Linked DNA regions of Homo sapiens: region 1 is reported to be linked to region 2. The links are microRNA targets in miRTarBase. Many come from high-throughput screens and were not tested one by one. Region 2 holds a microRNA gene; the other region holds the end of a gene's coding sequence.
Evidence for each region. The annotated mature microRNA hsa-miR-1537-3p reads AAAACCGUCUAGUUACAGUUGU and lies in region 2 at 2,979-3,000, opposite strand. An mRNA with a match to its seed (bases 2 to 7 or 8) in the 3' UTR can be bound and repressed. Matches are read on the target gene's strand: a 7mer-m8 pairs with bases 2 to 8, a 7mer-A1 pairs with bases 2 to 7 and ends in A, and an 8mer does both.

Region 1 (4,400 bases), not on the chromosome of region 2:
TAAACAGATTTCTGAAAGTTTTTAAAAGAGAAACTAAAGTTAGTGCCTGGGCAGTATTGACAAATGTTTTGCTCTTTAACCATGAACTATTACTTGAGAAGATTCACGTGATGACACCGCAGGGTATGTCTATCAAGTGACCCTATCTACTTTCAGCTCCACATAAGAAGGAATTCTGGCAGTGATACAATCACTGGGAAAGCTTGCATGCATAGCAAACTCCCCTTTCTAAGAAAATACAAGTCCAAGAGGTTCCCACTCAACCTCCTCTAAGATTTAGAATCAATGTTTGGGGGAAGAATCCAGAAAACAGAAATTTGGGGGGGGGGGTCTTTTAAAATCCCACTCCCCTGCTTCTTTTTGCAAACCCTTAACTTTCCTCTTAGTGTCTGAAATGAGCTCAGGAGTGGGGGCCGACAGACTTGGAACTATGGTGGGAGACCTTCAGACTCCTTTGCCATCCCATTTTATGATTCAAACTTCAGGGGACCTTAAAGATGATCTAAGTCTCAATTTCAGAGATTAACTGTGGCTCAGAGAGGTTGTCTTGCCCAAGGTCACACAGCTCATTCATGATTTTGCCTTGAAAGTCCACCTTCAAGATTCTAAAGTGGGATACTCCTTGTACCGCAGCACTTCCAGTCACTATTCTATTTTTAAGGTGTTTGTTCTCTTCCTGATGGATCGTCCCCTTTGACGATTGACAATGAGATTTACAGGATTTTTGACCCTTTAGGTGGTTTCTGCTCCGTGATTGAGAGGAAGTGGGGCAGGGAGGAGTTTGTAGAGTTATTGCAATGGATTCCAAAACCCAAATCACAGCACACAGTTCTTTAAAGTGAAGAACAACTTATTCACAGATAGATACATTTTCTTTTATAATATAAATGCAAATTTAAAAGCTAGCAGTTTTTGTCAGTCAACAGATATAATTAGAATTGCCTGAACATCTTGGACATTTTTTAACATTAAAATATGGTTCTCAAAGAATATATAGCTCTAATATCTGAAGATTGTGAATCTGTGCCTAAGCCTTCATGTGCTACTCTTTATATAAAAGAAGAGCCTGAGGTACACTTTTTTTCCTTGTTTTCTAGTGGTGGCGAGAACTAATAAGGTGCACTTTTAGCAAAACAATTCTGGCTATGCGAGCAGGCTCAGAGACAGGAGTTACTCTTCCAGTGATTCTCAAATCAAATCATGTAGTTTGTCCCCACCCTTTCTGAAGCCAAGCTCCCACCTCCACCCCACTTTCCCAGAGAAAAGCCTCTCCCTCCAGATTGTTATGTATCTTGCCCATAACCCTGCATCCTCCAGCTCTCTGGTTCTTCTTTTCCTCTAGTAACTCCTCCTTCTTCCCTCACGTTTCCCATGTTAGGAAGGCAATTTACATTCTAAGGTGTCAGCTGACTCTTTCCCTTGGCAGAGGTGGGGTGAAGATGTGGCTACCAGATTGAAGCTAAAAACTAGGGGTATCTTTTAGTTCTCACACTCAAACAGGAAGGCCATTGAGTTACACCTACTTTTGCACATGACTAACCTCAGATGAAGCAATCTTTGCTACTCTACGGCTGGAAGCAGAGGAAGAAGCGTGAGGTCACCAAAAAGGAAACTGCACTGCAGCTCCTCTTGCCAGACAGACCCAGGAGCAGTCAAGGATGCCAGCTCACAAAACACCTCTAATTAGATCATGAATCTGTATAGGCTGTAATCCCAGCACTTTGGGAGGCCGAGGCGGGCAGATGACTTGAGGCCAGGAGTTCAAGACCAGCCTGGCCAACATGGTGAAATCCCCGTCTCTACTAAAAACACAAAAATTACCCAGTGTGGTGGCGTGTGGGGGAGGCTTTAGCACGAGAATCACTTAGACCCAGGAGGCAGAGGTTGCAGTGAGCCAAAATTGTGCCAATGCACTCCAGCCTGGGCGACAGAGCAAGACTCTGTCTCAGAAAAAAAAAAAAAAAGGACCTATGTTGGGCATTCATTTCCTATTTTTCACTATTTCCCCTCCCAATTAAAGTGTAAGTCCCTTGAGAGCAGAAATCATGCAAACTCCCCTATATTTTCTACTCCAACTACTGGGAGGAGACAGTGTGGTCAGAAGGTCAGAGGATGTCTGCTGATGGAAATCAGTTAAAATACTTTGGCTTGATAATGAACACTTAGTAATTAGTAGCTTACAAGATGAAGACAAAATTAACACACAGAAAAGAACAGTGAAAACTTTTAATAGTTTACTGCCACAGTATCAACTTTTATATGTGTGCATATGTTTAAATACAAATTAGACCATAAATACCAGATGGTAAAATAGCTGCCTCTAGGCTGAAAAAAAAAACTCTCTACCACTAAATAAACAATCTTAAGTAATACTGAAGAAAACAGATGTGAGGTAATTTTCCATCTAAAGTGACTACAACCTACATTAAGACATTTTAACTAAAAATTCAAGTAGTTATAAGACTCTTGTAACTCAAAAATGTAACTTTAATACACATTTTCAAACTAAAGAAAAATACTTTAATTATAAATAGGCAAAATAAATAAAATTATTCCTGCTGAAATAAAATCAAGACATTATTTATTTGAGGACTGTATATAGCCCAGATAAAAAAAATGAAACTTACTTGAGACCCTACTAAGAAGCTATATAATACTCTAATACAAATTATCTATACAGATACCCATATAAGTATGTAAGTATGTGTATACATATATATTCACCAATGCATATATGGAACTTTCATTCTAGATGAGAACTAACTGTTCCTTTTTTTTAAGAAAAGTATATTCCAATTATGAAAATATTCTTAATTTACATTAAGAGATCACTTTTTGTAGGATGCACACTAATGTGACAAGGAGCATTTTCCGAACCTTTAGAAACTTCTTTAGAAACATTCATATCTTATCAAGTTACTTCTGAATATTTGTTCTACTAAGTTTCAAAAACATCAATTAAAAATTAACTTCTTTTTTCTTTTTATTATCCCTGGTTATACAAAATCCCCATGTTCTTTTATTATATTGAATGTTCAGTCTACTGATTTACTGGCCCCAAGTAACCCTCCTATACTTTATCCAATTTTTTCAAAGTTATTTTCCAGTTTTCCATAGTTTCTAGTAACGCCCAACAGGAACACATTGAATGAAAGATCATCTGAACAGAAGCAATACAATTTGAGTCAAAAGAAACAAATGATTTTACGTTGTGTAGTGACCGAAGAAATCAACACTGAGTATAACATTTCAGTGTTCTCAGAATGAGTTTTTTCATTATAACAAGGTAATATGTATAAACCGAATCATATACAATGTGCTGAGTTGGCACTGAAAAGCAAAACACCAAAAACAGCAACAACAACAATGCACTGAACTGTTTCTCCCCAGCCGCCCAGTCTAATCACAGGTCATCTCCCTTCACAGTAGGCCAGCGGTAATCTTCGGCAAAAACACTAGAACGATTCTCTAAGTAAAAAAGAAATGTGTCAATAATTACTTCTTTATTTTCAAGGGTCTTCCATTCTTGCTTTAAAATAAACAAAGTGGTTTTATAATGTTCTCTCATCCCAAAGAATGATAATCTGGGAAAACTTGAACAGAAATTCACTTTGATGTATTCCATCTTCCGTTTCCAAGGGCACCCATGAATGCACCTTCACATTCCTCTCAATTACAATGCAGTCTTTCTTCAAATTGATGAAACGTGCACCTCCTGAGAAAACTCTTTTGAAGGAGTCCCCTCATGCAAGTTTTTGATGCAGTCAGGTTCCTGAGCAGAAGAGTTTGGATATCAGATTCAGAAGTTTCTGCCGGAAGTTCAGTTTGTCTCCAAATCTCCTGAGTTGAGTAGCACACTCGACTTCCAGCTCTGAGAAGGAAAGCAAAACATGGACATGAACATTGATGATATTACAGACTGTAACCAGCAAAACCTAATACGCCCACACTAGTGACAAATTGAGTATCCCAGGAAGCATTTCTCTTAACTTTGGCTTTATGTGCACCTGTTTTCCAAATGTGACACACACACACACTTACACACATTGTGACTCACCGAAAGCAATCGTTAAGGTAAGAATAAAGACATTTACTTTGAGTTTTTAAAAAACGCATCCTGGATGAGGCAAGTGTTACCTTACTTTCAAATATGTCAAATACCACAAAGAGTAGCATTATCATTCTTTGGGATGTGAGAACATTGTAAAACCACTTTGTTTATTTTAAAAGCAATGCTACAAAGAGTAGCATAAGTCACCAGCCTTAGATGATGTCATCTTTTTCTCTTCATTTAAGGTTGGCTGGGAAACAGAAGTCAAGTTCTGTGTGGCTTTCAAGTAGGATTTGATTTTCAAATGGCAATAATTTACAGCTTAGGTTATACTCTCATTATATAGGCA
Region 2 (4,400 bases):
AAAATCTAAAATTCATATGGAACCAAAAAAGAGCCTGCATAGCCAAAGCAAGACTAAGTGAAAAGAACAAATCTGGAGGCATCACATTACCTGATTTCAAACTATACTATAAGGCCATAGTCACCAAAATAGTGTGGTACTGGTATAAAAATAGGCACATAGACCAATGGAACACAATAGAGAACCCAGAAATAAACCCAAATACCTACAGCCAACTGATCTTTGACAAAGCAAACAAAAACATAAAGTGGGGAAAGGACATTCTTTTCAACAAATCATGCTGGAATAATCAGCTAGCCGCATGTAGGAGAATGAAACTGGATCCTCATCTCTCACCTTATACAAAAAATCAACTACACATGTACTAAGGACTTAAACTTAAGACCTGAAACTATAAAAATTCTAGAAGATAACATTGGAAAAACCTTTCTAGACATTGGCTTAGGCAAGGATTTCATGACAGAGAACCCAAAAGTAAATGCAATAACAACAAAGATAAATAGCTGGGACCTAATTAAACTAAAGAGCTTTTGCATGGCAAAAGTAACAGTCAGCAGAGTAAACAAACAACCCACAGAATTGGGAGAAAATCTTCACAATCTATACATCTGACAAAGGACTAATATCCAGAATCTACAACAAACTCAAACAAATCAGTAGGAAAAAAACAATCCCATCAAAAAGTGGGCTAAGGACATGAATAGACAGTTCTCAAAAGAAGATATATAAATGGCCAACAAACATATGAAAAAATGCTCAACATCACTAATGATCAGGGGAATGCAAATCAAAACCACAATGTGATACCATCTCACTCCTGCAAGAATGGCCATAATCAAAAAATCAAAAAACAGTAGATGTTGGCATGGACGTGGTGAACAGGGAACACTTCTGCACTGCTGGTAGGAATGTAAACTAGTACAGCCTCTATGGAAAACAATGTGGAGATTCCTTAAAGAACTAAAAGTAGAACTAACATTGGATCTAGCAATCCCACTACTGGGTATCTACTCAGAGAAAAAGAAGTCATTATTTGAAAAAGATACTTACACACGTTTATAGCAGCAAAATTCACAATTGCAAAATTGTGGAACCAACCCAAATGCCCATCAATCAACAAGTGAATAAAGAAACTGTGGTATGTAAGTATGTATGTATATGTGTGTGTATATATATATATATGATGAAATACAATGCAGCCATAAAAAGGAATGAATTAACAGCATCTGCAGTGACCTGGATGAGACTGGAGACTATTATTCTAAGTGAAGTAACTTGGGAATGGAAAACAAAACATCATATGTTCTCACTGATATGTGGGAGCTAAGCTATGAGGATGCAAAGGCATAGAATGATACAATGGACTCTGAGGACTTGGGGGGAAGAGTGGGAGGGGGGCGAGGGATTAAAAGACTACAAATATGGTACAGTGTATACTGCTTGGGTGATAGGTACACCAAAATCTCACAAATCACCACTAAATAACTTATTCATGTAACCAAATACCACCTGTACCCCAATAACTGATGGAAAAATTAAAAATAATAAAAATAAAAAGGTTTATTGGCAAAAAAAGAATGATTCCTAACTAAAGACAAAACAAAGTTCATTAGGAATATTATTTTTATATATTTACTTTTATTAATATAAAAACCTTTATAATCTATTTTATAGTGGATAATAAATACACTCTCGAGAATACTGAAGCAAAATCTGGTACTCACTAAATAGGGGAAATTAAAATATTTAATGGGCTTTGTGTGATCAAATTCCTCTTGGAATTTAAAATGCAGATCAGGGAAAGATATGACACTTAAAGTTCTAAATTAAATAACTGAATAAGAAAATTCATGAAAACCAATTTAACAATAATATAAATGGTTTCACAAACTGAAATCTTCCATAAGACAAATCATGATCCCATATTTATTGACTACTCACCATACTTCGTGGTATGTTCAACTTTCATTGAATCTATTAACTTTAAAAGAAATGATAGCAGTTGTTTAGCGCCCAGGCCCTTCTTGACAAATACTGAACTTGCTTCTCTGAAGAGTGCATTAAGGAGCATCTGACTAGAAGTCAAGATGTCATGTATTCTTAGGAAATAAAGATTGTGGTCTCCAGTTCCGTAGATACTAACATTGGGACAGCTTCAGGAAGGAAATGCTGTTAAGGCTTTTAACTACAGACCCTACAGAATCTTAGTAACAACTCATGCCTCAATGGGAAAATGAATTCAGAGTTCCAACTTGAATTGCTAGCAATATGTTTTGCCCCATTCTCCCCCAGCCCCCTGCCTGTCAGGGAGGGAGAAGAGATTCCTGTACCTCAAAGCCATTTGTGGTAGCTCCAACAATCTGGGGAAAGGGCCCCAAAAGTAGGATAGTACCACGTAAGGCAAACAGTAAGCCAGTTAGACATGTTGAGGTAATCTCAGCACTTTGCCGGACCTTTTTCCCGGGGAAGTCTCACAATGCAACACTCAAGTATACTGTAGTTTATTTTGTCTGTAAGGGCAAATCTTATGCATTCTAAACATTCTCAACAACCATCTTAGAAATGAGCCTCTGGAACACAGTCATATGTAAGACGTAACTGCCATACTCAAAAGACATTTTTTCAACTAATACTGAGGTAAGTGACAAGTTGATTGACAATAAAGGAAAACTGCCAGAGTTCGCATTTAATAAATTATTTTAAAATGAGAATCCATTCTACAATCAACTTTCAGAGAGTTAAACGATCTCTGGGTTAATGACCATATCACCTCCCTCAAAATTTTACAGATAAACTAAGGCAGACAGCAGTTAAGAGATTTCCCAAAAGTCAGAGGACTTAACAGCTAGGTCTGCAGAGTCCTATCCAATGTTTTTCCTAATACTGCATACAATTTTTGACAGACTACTCACAACCAAACTATATCTTTCAGAATTCTACCTTTCAGAGCATTTTAGCGATTAGGTCTGGCACAACTTACAACTGTAACTAGACGGTTTTCTGTGTGGACAGGACAGAAAACTGACTAATTACAGCTGTACTTAGTGCCAACTCCCAGGCACGCCTCCAAGCACCACAAACTTCTTGCCCCCCCACAAACTTCTCAAGATGTTTTACAGCTTTGTTATCTTTTTCCATGTTTCCACATTGTACATTTATACCAAAAAGTAAATGACTTGGAAGAAAAATGTTGCTCCTCTTGAAAAGAAGTATGTACATTTTAACAAGAAGTAACACCTTCAGCTCTAAAGAGCATCAGAAATTTCAGCATCGGAGGGTTAAGAATTGGCTCTGAACTAGATGTTCTATATTTAAAATGTGGGAATATAATAATCCTTAACTAGTGAATATGGAAATAAATGGTTGTGCTGTTCCTATATTTATTCTGTATTATGCATTTAAGCTAAGTTAAAGTAGAAAAATGTGTTTAATGAAATATTTCCAATTTATGTAGAATTGTGTAAAGAAAACTAAAAAAAAAAACATGTATAACAGCAGTAAGGCAGTAGTTCTGGGGGAAGAATGGAAATCTAAGACAGCAATGGCCCAGAAAGGTGTACATATTATTTTTTCATATTTCAGGGTGTCAATAAACAACATTGCCTATTTCGCTACCCCTCTCCCCAAGCCCATGAAATCTTGGTTAACATGCCATTCCGGCTGCCTTGAAACCTGGGGCGCTGACCTAGGGAGGAGAGGTTACTCTGGCTCCTTGCAGAACAAAGCTGGCCAGGAAATAAAGGAAACTCAGGCATAGGGCAGCCAGGCAAAATTTTAATAGAAATTCAGAGGAAGTCACACTAAAACGCACCAAACTTAAGCCTTTCAACAGGTAGTTCATTTTTCCTAAAAACAAACAAATTCGGCAACCAGATATCTCAGGAAGAACCTGTGTTTGGCCCTGAGCACCGCAAAAGGGTAGAAATTCTGAGATATTGTAGCTATAGAGAGAGAGACGGCATTTAAAGGAACTATGAAGGTTCATCCAGGTAAATCATCTCCCCGGCTTTCTATCCCTGTTAGAAGGAATGTGCTAGATGTTTTACACTGACTACTACATCCCTCCTCAAAAGAGACCTTTGGATTTTTATAGCATGATGATGATGATGATAATCTGGCTAACACCTACAGTGATTAATTACTACACATCAGGCACTATTGTAAGCACTCTAGGTAAGTAGAGTAGTTAGTTTAATCCTCCTAACAATCTCCTAAGTAACATTATTATCCCTAGTTGACACATATTGGAAACTGAAGCACAGTAAGGTTAGGTCATTGCTCAAAGTCACAGAGTTACTAAGTGTCAGGGCCAGGATTCAGACTCATGCAATCCCTTTGTATTCTATATACAAATTTCTATTCTCCAAAGCAGACATTGACTTCTCTCTCCAATAAGCCAG

Region 1: miRTarBase lists PMAIP1 as a target of hsa-miR-1537-3p. Seed matches in the 3' UTR shown: 7mer-A1 at 3,297-3,303.

Annotation. Positions count from the first base shown.
Region 1 is chr18:59,902,118-59,906,517 of GRCh38, reverse strand. PMAIP1 (phorbol-12-myristate-13-acetate-induced protein 1) reads right to left here. Exons shown (of 2, transcript NM_021127.3): 2 at 2,213-3,871. The coding sequence ends at 3,765. Among named protein-coding and RNA genes, the nearest start is that of PMAIP1, 4.3 kb to the right of the region's middle. RefSeq lists an enhancer at 1,523-1,692.
Region 2 is chr1:235,850,022-235,854,421 of GRCh38, forward strand. It overlaps MIR1537 (microRNA 1537), which reads right to left and starts at 3,039; the gene lies at 2,979-3,039. The region is part of intron 1 of LYST (lysosomal trafficking regulator); the gene reads right to left.